Regions from separate parts of the Homo sapiens genome. Here region 1 is linked to region 2. The links come from fine-mapping of genetic effects on gene expression. A gene starts in region 2. The other region holds a variant in brackets. All regions are shown on one strand. Distances are between the middles of the regions. Region 1 overlaps LOC124900653 (a long non-coding RNA gene). Region 2 holds the start of WFS1 (wolframin ER transmembrane glycoprotein).

Evidence for each region. PIP is the estimated chance that this variant, and not a neighbour inherited with it, causes the effect. A credible set is the group of variants that fine-mapping cannot tell apart.
Region 1: its variant is the best candidate, but not a certain one, in a credible set for the expression of WFS1 in testis (GTEx, PIP 0.82).

What each region holds. Positions count from the first base shown.
Region 1 is chr4:6,629,363-6,634,881 of GRCh38, forward strand. LOC124900653 (a long non-coding RNA gene) reads right to left here. Exons shown (of 2, transcript XR_007058007.1): 2 at 1,791-5,519. Among named protein-coding and RNA genes, the nearest start is that of MRFAP1, 8.6 kb to the right of the region's middle. The variant C/T (reference allele first, on the strand shown) is at 3,274.
Region 2 is chr4:6,266,914-6,271,913 of GRCh38, forward strand. WFS1 (wolframin ER transmembrane glycoprotein) reads left to right here and starts at 2,937. Exons shown (of 8, transcript NM_006005.3): 1 at 2,937-3,101. RefSeq lists a silencer at 2,915-3,024.

The sequences.
Region 1 (5,519 bases), 360 kb after region 2:
GATGTTTTTGGTTGTGGCAGGGCTAGTTAGCTTTCTGCTGGCATCCATTCTTCCCCTCCATGATATAAATGACAGTTTTAGCTGAGAAGTGGCTTCCCAGACAGGGTCCACATTCCCCAGCTTTCCTTACATCCAAAGGAAGCATATGAATCCTTCTCACTAAGGTAATGAAAGAGAATGCCTCTGACCATTCCAACACCCCAGCTAAGACCCCAGACATGTGAGTGAGACCTTTTTGGGTTTTTCAGCCATTCCAGGTAGCAGCTCAACCCAGCAGAGTGAGTGACTCTAGGTGATAAACTATACATGAAGCAGAAGAACCAACCAGCTGAGGCCTGCCCGAACTCCTAACCCACAGAATTGTGACAAATGATTGTTATGGTGCTAAGTACCATAAGATTTGGGCCAGGTGTGGTGGCTCACACGTGTAATCCCAACACTTTGGGAGGCTAATGTGGGAGGATCACTTGAGCCCGGGAGTTCAAGACTAGCCTGGGCAACATGGTGGGACCTTGTCTCTTAAAAAAAAAAAAAAAAATTAGGCAGACATGGTGGTGCACACCTGTAGTCCCAGATGCTCAGGATGCTGAGGTGGGAGGATCACTTGAGCCTGGGAGTTCAAGGCTGCAGTGAGCCATGATCATGGCATTCCACTCCAGCCTGGGCAACAGACTTAGACCTGTCTCAAGAAAAAAATTTAGGGTGTCATGAACACAGCACTAGATAACTGAAATATATAACTTCTTTGTAAGTCATATTTATCATTACACAATGCTCCTCTTGTTTCGTATTTTAACCTTAAATTGTGCTTTATTCCTTAATTTTTATACATTCCTTGTCACTTCATTATAGGTGTGTTTCTTATATATAGCACATACCTTGATTTTAGGTTCTTTTTGTTTGTTTTTTTCGTGTTTTTTTTTTTTTTTTTTTTTTGAGACGGAGTCTCGCTCTGTTGTCCAGGCTGGAGTGCAGTGGCACCATCTCGGCTCATGGCAAGCTCCACCTCCAGGGTTCATGCCATTCTCCTGCCTCAGTCTCCCAAGTAGCTGGGACTAGAGGCACCTGCCACAACACCCGGCTAATTTTTGGTATTTTTAGTAGAGATGGGGTTTCACCATGTTAGCCAGGATGGTCTCGATCTCCTGACCTCGTGATCTGCCCGCCTCGGCCTCCCAAAGTGCTAGGATTACAGGCGTGAGCCACCGTGCCCAGCCATGATTGGATTTTATTAAATATTTGTTCCCTTTTCTATTTATAGTGCATTTTACTTCATTGTTTTCTCTCCTCATTTTCCCTTTTCTTTTCAATTTTCCAGAGTCCTATTTTATTCTCTTTTTTCTCCTCATTACTTTGAAAGTTCTACTAGTCTTTTCAATTTTTTTAGTAGTTTTGTTCTGGATTGTTTTAGGCATAATAATTACAAATAAGCCTCTATTTCCTTTCTGGAATAACAAAATAAAATAATCATCATCCTTCACCACCACAAAGATGGCTTTGTTGCCCACTCTCCTTCCTCTTTCTCCCATAGCAAGATAAAATCTTTGGACCATGTGTACATTCCCATTCTTCCCATCCATTTATAACTTCAGGCTTTGGTTTTGTCAAGCTATTCAAGTCTCTGGAGAAGCAGCAAACAGAAAGTGGAGGAAGCATGGCAGTTTAGACACTTCAGGCCCACAGCAAGCAAAGGGCAAAGGAGAGGAAGCCAGTCTGCTTATGACTTCCCTAGGGACGGACACCAGCTATTAGGCTCTTCAGGCTGATATAACAAATTACGCCAGACTGGATGGCTTAGACAACAAACATTTATTTCTCATAGTTCTTGAGCCCAGAAAGTCCAAGGGTAAGATGCTACCAGATCTGGAGGCTGGTGAGGACTGTCTTCCTGGTTTGCAAATGGCCATCTTTAAACTGAGTGGTTAATTTGATGAGATCTGCTTACCCTGCTTGCTTTGGGTCACTTGCTTTTTGTTATTTTTTCTTCCTTTTTCCATGAAGCTGAAGGCCACAGTAGCTGAAGTATGCATCACTGAATTCTAAAACTTAAACCTTTACTGACTACTGTATTTTTTATTTTACTTTTTAAGAAACAGGATCTCACTCTGTTGCCTAGGCTGGAGTGCAGTGGTATGTTCATAGCTCACTGAAGCCTCAAACTTCTGAGCTCAAGCAAACCTCCCACCTTGGTCCCCCAAAGTGCTGGGGTTACAGGCATGAGCCACTGCACCTGACCTTTACTGGCTACTTTATAGATAGCATTTATAGGTCACCATGGTAATGGTTACTTCAGTTATTTTTCAGGAACTTGGGCCAGCTCCTGTCATGTTCAAACCAGCTGAGACCACCAACTCTTCAACTGGGCCTGCGCAAGTGCCTGAGAGGTGGCCTTTGGACATCAGAGGGCCAAATACTCCACCCTCAGATCATGCTAACACCACCATTTTCTGTACATAGGTCCTATGAAATGTCATGAACCCTGACTACACTTGTGCAAAATGAATCTGTTACTTTATTTTTCCCCACTGCCAATCACCTTTCCCCAAGACTTAAACCACCCCACTTCTCTAACCCATAAATATCCCTAAGCCTTATTTTCAGAGAAGTGGATTTGAGAGCTGTTTTCCCACATCTTCACCTGGTGCCCTTGAGAATAAGTATCTTTTCTTTTGCAGAACCCATGTCATAGTGATTGATTTACTGCACATGGGCAGAACGGACCTGGACCTGGCCAGTAACAGTCTTCTTGTCGTAGCCTCACATGGCAGAAAGTAGAGAGTAAGACCTCTTGCATCTTTTCTTACAAGGCACTAATCCTGTGATAGGTACCCCACCCTCATGACCAAATCTAACCCTAATCACCACCCAAAGGCCTCATCTCCAAATACCATCTCATTAGTGGTTAGGATCTCAACATAAGAACTTGCAGGGGACACAAACATTCGGTCCATAGCACCAGGCTTCTCCCCATCTCAGGCGGTGGCACAGCTCAGCCTCTGCATCTGCTCCCAGGACCAGCAATGTTGAACAGGTGCCCCTAGTAGGGACAGGTGAGTCCCAAAATTGGGGCTGAGCCCAGGAGGGTTCTTGGCTTTACCCAGAAAAGAATTTCAGGGCAAGCCGGTGGTGTTAGCAACTTTTATTGAAGCGGCAGAGTACAGCAGCAGCAGAGGTATCACTCATTGGCAGAGCAGGGCTGCCCATAGCCAATGTGCCCAGAGTAGCAACTCAGAGGCAGTTCCACAGTCATATTTATACCTGCTTTTTTTTTTC[C/T]GGGCAGACTTTCACTCTGTCACCCAGGCTGGAATGCAGTGGCACAATCTCAGCTCAGTGCAACCTCCACCTCCTGAGTTCAAGCTATTCTCCTGCCTCAGCCTCCCCAGTAGCTGGAATTACAGGCACGTGTCACCACACCCAGCTAATTTTTGTTATTTTTAGTAGAGATGGGTTTTCGCCATGCTGGCCAGGCTGGTCTCAAACTCCTGACCTCAGGTGATCCGCCCGCCTCGGCCTCCCAAAGTGCTGGAATTACAAGTATGAGCCACCATGCCCGGCCTATACCCACTTTTAATTATGTGAAAATTAAGGGGGGAGATTATACAGAAATTTCTAGAAATAGGGTGGTAACTTCTGGGTCATAAGGCTGTTGTCATGGAAAGTGGCAGTAATGTCCGGGTGTTGTCAGTGGGCATGGATTCTGTAGAGGTGCTTTTACCTCTTCCCCTGTTTAGCTAGTCCTCAGACTGGTCTGATGTCTGAGCCCTGTCTCCAGAGTCCCGCCTCCTGCCGTCTCACTAGGACTACACATGTGCAGGCAGCTCTAATCCTTCCCTGGAGGCCGCCCAGGTGTCCAGGGGCTGTGCTGCCTCTGGGAATCATTAAAGGTCGCTCTGTGCCCAAAGCCTCTCACACTGGGCCCTCAGCATCACGTCCTCTCCCAAGAGGGAACAAAACAATCCCTTCTCTGCTCTACTCTGCAGAATTTACAGCTGAGCCATAGGACTGGGAGTTCCAATTCTTCCCCCATGTCGCCCTGCCTTTCATCACTTGGTCCAGGACAAACTGTTCTCCAATTTCCAGCCTGGGGAAAAGCAAGTTCTGCCTCATGGCAGCATTTACCAGCTGAAACGCCCTGGTTTTGTTTGCACCTGTGTTTGTTCTCAGGCTACAGCTAATGATGCCCTGGGGCTGCCCACAGTCAAACTGGTTTGCAAAATTGCATCTTTGACTTCAACAATTTCTAAAGAATCTCTAAATTTATAAATAATTCACTCAAGAGAAAGAAAAATGAATCCAGACAAACTCTGCAATGCACCAAAGAAATGGAATCTACATAGAGATTGCACTATAGGTGAATGAGGCAAAAACAGGAAGCTATTGCAACATTGGGGGAGGCGGGAGTTGGTGGATGTGCATAAAGTCCTGGTCCCAGCCTTACAGAATGCTCACTCTTCTCAAGCACACACACAGAGTGTGCTGCAATTGCCCAGGCCGAAATTTTTACAAATTTCAGAGAATCACTATCAAACCGAACTCCATCTCTAAGAAGAATACAATTAAGTTAGACATCAGTAATAGAAGAGCATAAACAGCTCTAATGTGGTTGAAATTTTTAAAACACAGTTTTGGGTTTTTTTTCTGGTTTTTGGTTTTTTGTTCATTTGAGACAGAGTTTCGCTCTTGTTGCCCAGGCTGGAGCGCAGTGGCACGATCTCGGCTCATTGCAACCTCCACCTCCTGGGTTCAAGCGATTCTCCTGCCTCAGCCTCCCAAGTAGCTGGGATGACAGGTGCCCATCACCACGCCTGGCTAATTTTTGTATTTTTAGTAGAGACAGAGTTTCGCCATGTTGGCCAAGCTGGCCTCAAACTCCTGTGATCTGCCTGCCTCGGCCTCCCAAAGTGCTGAGATGACGGGCATGATCCACTGCGCCTGGCCAAAGCACAGTTCTAATAATTTATGGATCAAGAAATCATAATTGGAATAAAAGTACACTTAGAACTAAATAATGAAAATGCCAATATCAAAAGCTGTGTGATGCAAGTAAAGTCATGCTTGATGGGAATTTAAGATCTTAAATGCTATGTTAGAAAAAAAAAACCCATTAATGAGTTGAGTTTCACCTAAGAAAATTTTTAAAAAGCACAGAATAAATCAAAGAAAGTAGAAAGGAGATAATAAAGATAAGAACAGAAATTAATGAAAGAGGCTGGGCATGGTGGCTCACTCCTGTAATCCCAACAATTTGGGAGGCCAAGGCAGGTGGATTGCTTGAGGTCAGGAGTTCAAGACCAGCCAGGCCAACATGGCAAAACCCCATCTCTACTAAAAATAAAAAAATTAGCTGGGTGTGGTGGTGGGTGCCTGTAATCCCAGCTACAGGAGGCTGAAGCAGAAGAACTGCTTGAACCCGGGAGGCAGAGGTTGCACTAAGCCGAGATCGCACCACCGCACTCCAACCTGGGCGACAGAGTGAAACTCTGTTTCAAAAAAAAAAGAAAAAGCAATTCGAAAGAAAT
Region 2 (5,000 bases):
TAATACCACTCTTCCCGTGAATGCTTTCCATCATGCGTTCTTCCTTATCAATAGTAATTTGCCATTTTTCAAATGTCTGCTGTGATCTTCTACTTCTCAATATTTTTGGTGTGTTTCTTGTAAATAGCGCTTAACTGGACTTTAGTTTTTGCCCCAATCTTACAGACTTTGGATGGGAAATTCAGCCCATTCACCGTGTTACGAAGGCGGGTAGCCATGGCTTTATTTATTTTATCTCATCTTATGTTTACTATTATTAAGCTTATTGTTCTTGCTATTATTTACTTTCCCCCTTAATTTTGCTTCCTTACTCTCCCTCCACCCCTCCCCCAACTTCTACCTAGTAATTCAGGAGTTCTACTCTGCTTCTTTCCCGTGAGTTGCTACTTTCCAATTCCTGAGAGTCATAATTCAACCAATCTTTCCCTGATAATGTATTAAAAGTAAATGGTAATGAAGCCCCCTCCCCACCACCAATAAGGCTTTCCTTCCCCAGCTGAGAGTCATAATTAAACCAATCTTTCCCTGCTAATGTATTAAAAGTAAATGGTAATGAAGCACCCCTCCCAACCACCAATAAGGCTTTCCTTCCCCACTCACCAAATCAGATCCTTTTACTTCCTCCTTCTCCCCTCAACCAAATGTGATCTTAAAATATTCTGACTTCTCTGTGATAAGATTCTATTTTTTTTTTTAGTTCCAGGCTAATACAACTTTCTCTTGAAGCATGTAGCTTATGTTTTAAGAATCCTTATGTGGCACTGCTAGTACAAAATCACAGGCACATGTGGATTATCCATACTGTATATTTTGCAAGGGTCATTGCTTAACACCACTTCCTGTTCTGAGCGTTTGCTCTATCTTGAAATCTCTACTGTGATTGAACTGTCTCGGTGACGGGGGAACTCTGAATATCTTCCTCTGAAAGGGGACATCACTGAGGTCCTTTCTCTGTCTTGCCACAGTGGATATTTTCTCTCTTTTGTCCACATAGATGAATCCTGTAGTAGCCATGGTAAGGATCCTTGATCCTATCATCAGAGTCCCTGGACATTGCTCCAAAGTCCCCTAGGAACCACTTCAACTTTTCTCCCCTTAGATGTGACCTGTTCTTTCTGGAACTCTGCAAGACCGTCTCTTTATCCTTGGCATCTGGGATTTCCAGGGACACGTTCTCCTGGCACTTTGCTCACCTCTGTTTCCCCTCCAGCTCTTCCTGGAGTACCTGTCCTTTGTGCAATACACCTCCTGGAACTGTCTTTCCAGTCTCTGCTTTTTGTCCTGATGATTTTCATGTGCTTTTCCTCTACATCATGAAGCATTTACTCCACATTATCTTCCAGTTTGCTCATTTGTCCTCACCTCCACTCTTCTCTTTCTGAATTTGCCTGTTGCTTTTTCAGTCTCTTAGCTCCGTGGAGTATGTTCAGTGTTGCTGTGTTCTGATAGAGGCTCCTTAAGCCATCTTGTAGATTTTTTGTTGCACTTCCTCTCTTCCCTTAGACCTCCACAGGAGGAACTTTTCAATCTGTCCTCTTCTCTCTGCTTAATGAGCCCCTGCAAAGGGTTTGGGAAGTGCTTCAGCCTCTCTGTGATTGTGTGTTCACATTAATATTTATTATTTTCTTAAATGTGCATAAATCTCACAATGTGAACAGTGATCATCTTTGAGTGATTTTTTTTCTCCTTTCTACTTTTAGTAATTCTCCAAATTTTCTACAGTTAGTGTGTGATAAGGTGGAAAGACATCTTCAAGACTTTGGGCAAATAACTATGTCTGAGCCTCAATTTTCACATCAATAAAAAATGGGCTCAGTGCCACCTCCCTCCTTGGGTCACTAGGGGGGCCCTTGAAAGCTGTGAAAGCCCCTAAGCCAACCTGGACAGAGCAGGCGAGGCTGACGGCAGGTGTTCTTCCTTCCTCTGTGAGCCTCACAGGGTCACACGTGAACATTGGGGATCGGGGGTGGGCAGTGGGGGCAGCTGGAGAATCAAATGAGGTGACTGACATGAACTACGCCGCTTTGACAAAAGTCCTCCGAAGTAGTGTGTTCAGAACTCATCTCCAAAGCCATCTGGAATATTTGCTCCCAACATGTTGGTAAGCATTATCTCTGACAGTCACTCCGAGCCCCAGTTTCTGCTGTGATAACTAGGACAGGTAGCTCAGGTTGGTTGTGGGGACCAGAGACAGAGCAGGCAGGGTCTCACGTTCCCCAGGGCCTCTCAAGGATAGACCCTCGCCCTCATCTCCAAACCACGCCTCCCAGACAGGAACCAAACTCCCAGAGTCTCCAAACTGCCTGAGCCTTGCCCACTCCCTGGGCTAACACACACTTTAAAGGAATCCCACAGTCACCGTGTGAAAAGCTTGCTACACTGCATTTGATTCTGGGCACTGAAAGCAGTACTTGGCTGCAGACACTCGTTTCAAACAGGCCCCATTTTTCCATCTCTGCTGCTGTTATTAGGGGAGCCCTTAGACTCTCTTGCAGCGCCGGAATAGGCGCTCAAGACGTGTGTTAATATTGCAACAGCAAATATAATGAATCTGCAGTTGGGGACGCTGAGGCCGGAGTGGTGGATGAAAGGTGGCCGGAGCCTTTTCCACGGGTCCAAACCACCTGTTACAGGAGAAGGCGAGCGGCCTCGCTAAGCAACTGGACGTTCCGCGGGCGGGGCGGGGGCGGGGCCGGGGCCCGAGTCCGCTCGGAAACTTTCGCTGTGGGCGAGCCGGACCCGCCTTCTGGCCCCTCGGGCCCAACCACGCAGGGGGAGTGCCGGGCCGCAGCTAGGCGAGGCGCACCGTGATTGGCGGAGATGTGGAGTGATTGGCGGCTACACCGGCCACTCAGCAGGCCGAGCTGGCGCCGCATCCGGGGGGCCGCGTCTGGAGTGGAGGGAGGCCGAAGGCCCCGCCCCTGCCCCGCCCCCTCGTGCAGAAGGCCGCGCTAGCCGGCTCTTCAGCAGCGAGTGCAGATTGCTCCCCCGCGGCCGCAGATCTCCCGTTTGCGCCGCGTTCAGCTGCTCCCGAACAACTTTTCTGCCGGCCCAGAGGCCCCAGGGCGTCGCAGCGCCGCGTGCGGCCCACTCACGGGCCGGTGAGTACTTCGGCGCTGGGGCAGTGGCGCGGTGGCTGTGGGCAGCGCGCAGGAGGCGGGCAAGAGCCCTGAGGCACTGTCCTCTTCGGGCCTCAGTTTCCCCTTCCGAGCTGATGGGTGGCTGGCCCCAAAGTCCCGACAAGGTCCCCGAAGTTGGAGGGCCGGGGGTCCCGCCCGCTCTGCAACGCGCAAGGCGACCCCTGTTCCGGGCCCGAACGGGTCACCCGGGGGGCGCGCCCCGGTCCCCCGCGCGCTGTCGCCTGGAGCCCCGCCGCGGGCGGGACAGCAGGCCCGAGAGGCGGAGCGGCCGGCGGGCAGGCCCCCTCCCCGCGCCCCGCGCCATCCCCCCCGAGTTGCCCCGTCATGCCCCTCCCCCGCGGTCCCGGGACCCACGGCCGCCCTCGGTGCCCGCCCGGCCGTTGGAACGCGCCTGGGCCCCCGGGAGGTGTTGTGGGGGGGAAGGGGGGTTCAGTCCCCCAGGGGGACCCGGCCCGCCCGAGGGGCAGCTTAGGGGTCATTCTGAATCCCCACAGCCCACTTAGGAGCGCTGTGGCAGTTCCTCTCTCTCTCGGGGCCCCTCAGTAGAGAGTTGAGGGGTTTCAGTGGCAGCACCTGGACCCTGCCTCGTATGAACTCCACCCTCTGGATCATTAGCTTTTTGTTTGATCAACGAAAACTTTCTGGAGAATCCTACCCAGCCCTTTTGGATGTGATGGCGCCCTGGCCTCTCACCCACTTAGCAGATGATGTTATGAATTCCAAGGAAGTCGCATTTGTGCAACCCCCCACCACCCAGATTTAACCCTCTCAGTAGCCTTAGGCGGAGAAGTTATAGTCCCCGTTTGACACCCCAGGAAGCTGAGGCTCAGCAGGGTTTGGTGCCAGCCCAGGACCACGAAGCTGATGGGGCAGAGCCTGGTGTGAGGCCTCTGCCCTATCTCTCCAGAAGCAGCCCCGTCTCTCCTCACCTTGGACAGTGACCCCTGGCATTTGGCCCAGGGCTTTGCAGTTTGTAAAGGGCTTTCTCTTATGCCAGCATCCATCACTCAAGGAGCTGTGCCCTGGGTACCCCATGTGCTGGCTGCCTGTTCTCTGCAGCAGGAGAGGGAGCCCACGGGAAGCCCAGAGGCCACCTTTGTCACTGTCGCCACCTGTTTACTTCTGTGTCCAAGGGTCTGTGATTCCCATGGGGTCTCCGTTGTATCCAACCAGGGATTTGGAGGGAGGCTTCTCCACATTTCAGCCTCTTTTCCCTACCTGCTGGTTTGTCCTCCCTTCGCAGACACAGGAAAAGTTGGCTGGGAGACCCCATCTCACCTTCTTTCCCAGGATGGAAGAGCATGGAGGGCGTCTCTGACTTAGGCCTCCCCTGCCCATCCCGGACCAGTGCTGGACAGGCTTCTGGGGCTGGTCACAGAGGGGACCTCAGCTCAGTCTCAACCCCCAGAGATGTCTGCACTGCCAGACAGACCCGAAACACCCATCCTTGACGGTGGCAATAAGAATCATAATAGGTCGGGAGCTTTATGCCTACACGGCTCCCCTCCCCTCCCACTTCCCTACTTCCGGAAGTGGTACCACCACAGCCAGCCAGCCCCAGCCACAAACCAGACCACCCCCTGTGCCCTTCATTCCTCACTCCCAGTTGGGTCTCTCCTGGCTCCTGAGCCTCACTCGGATGCCTGCCCTGGTTCAGGACCCTCGCCTCTCCCTGGACGACCCCCAGGCTCCTCCCTGGTCCCGATCCGGGCCTGGCTGCACGCAGCCCTGCTGGTTCTTCAGCTGCCACTTCCCTCTGGGCTATCGGGTCAGGTCCGCCTCCCGAGCCAGGAGCCGGCATTCTTTCGGGCCCTCAGGGACCCGCCTCGCTGCTCACTCAGCCTCTCCCTCCTGTGTCCT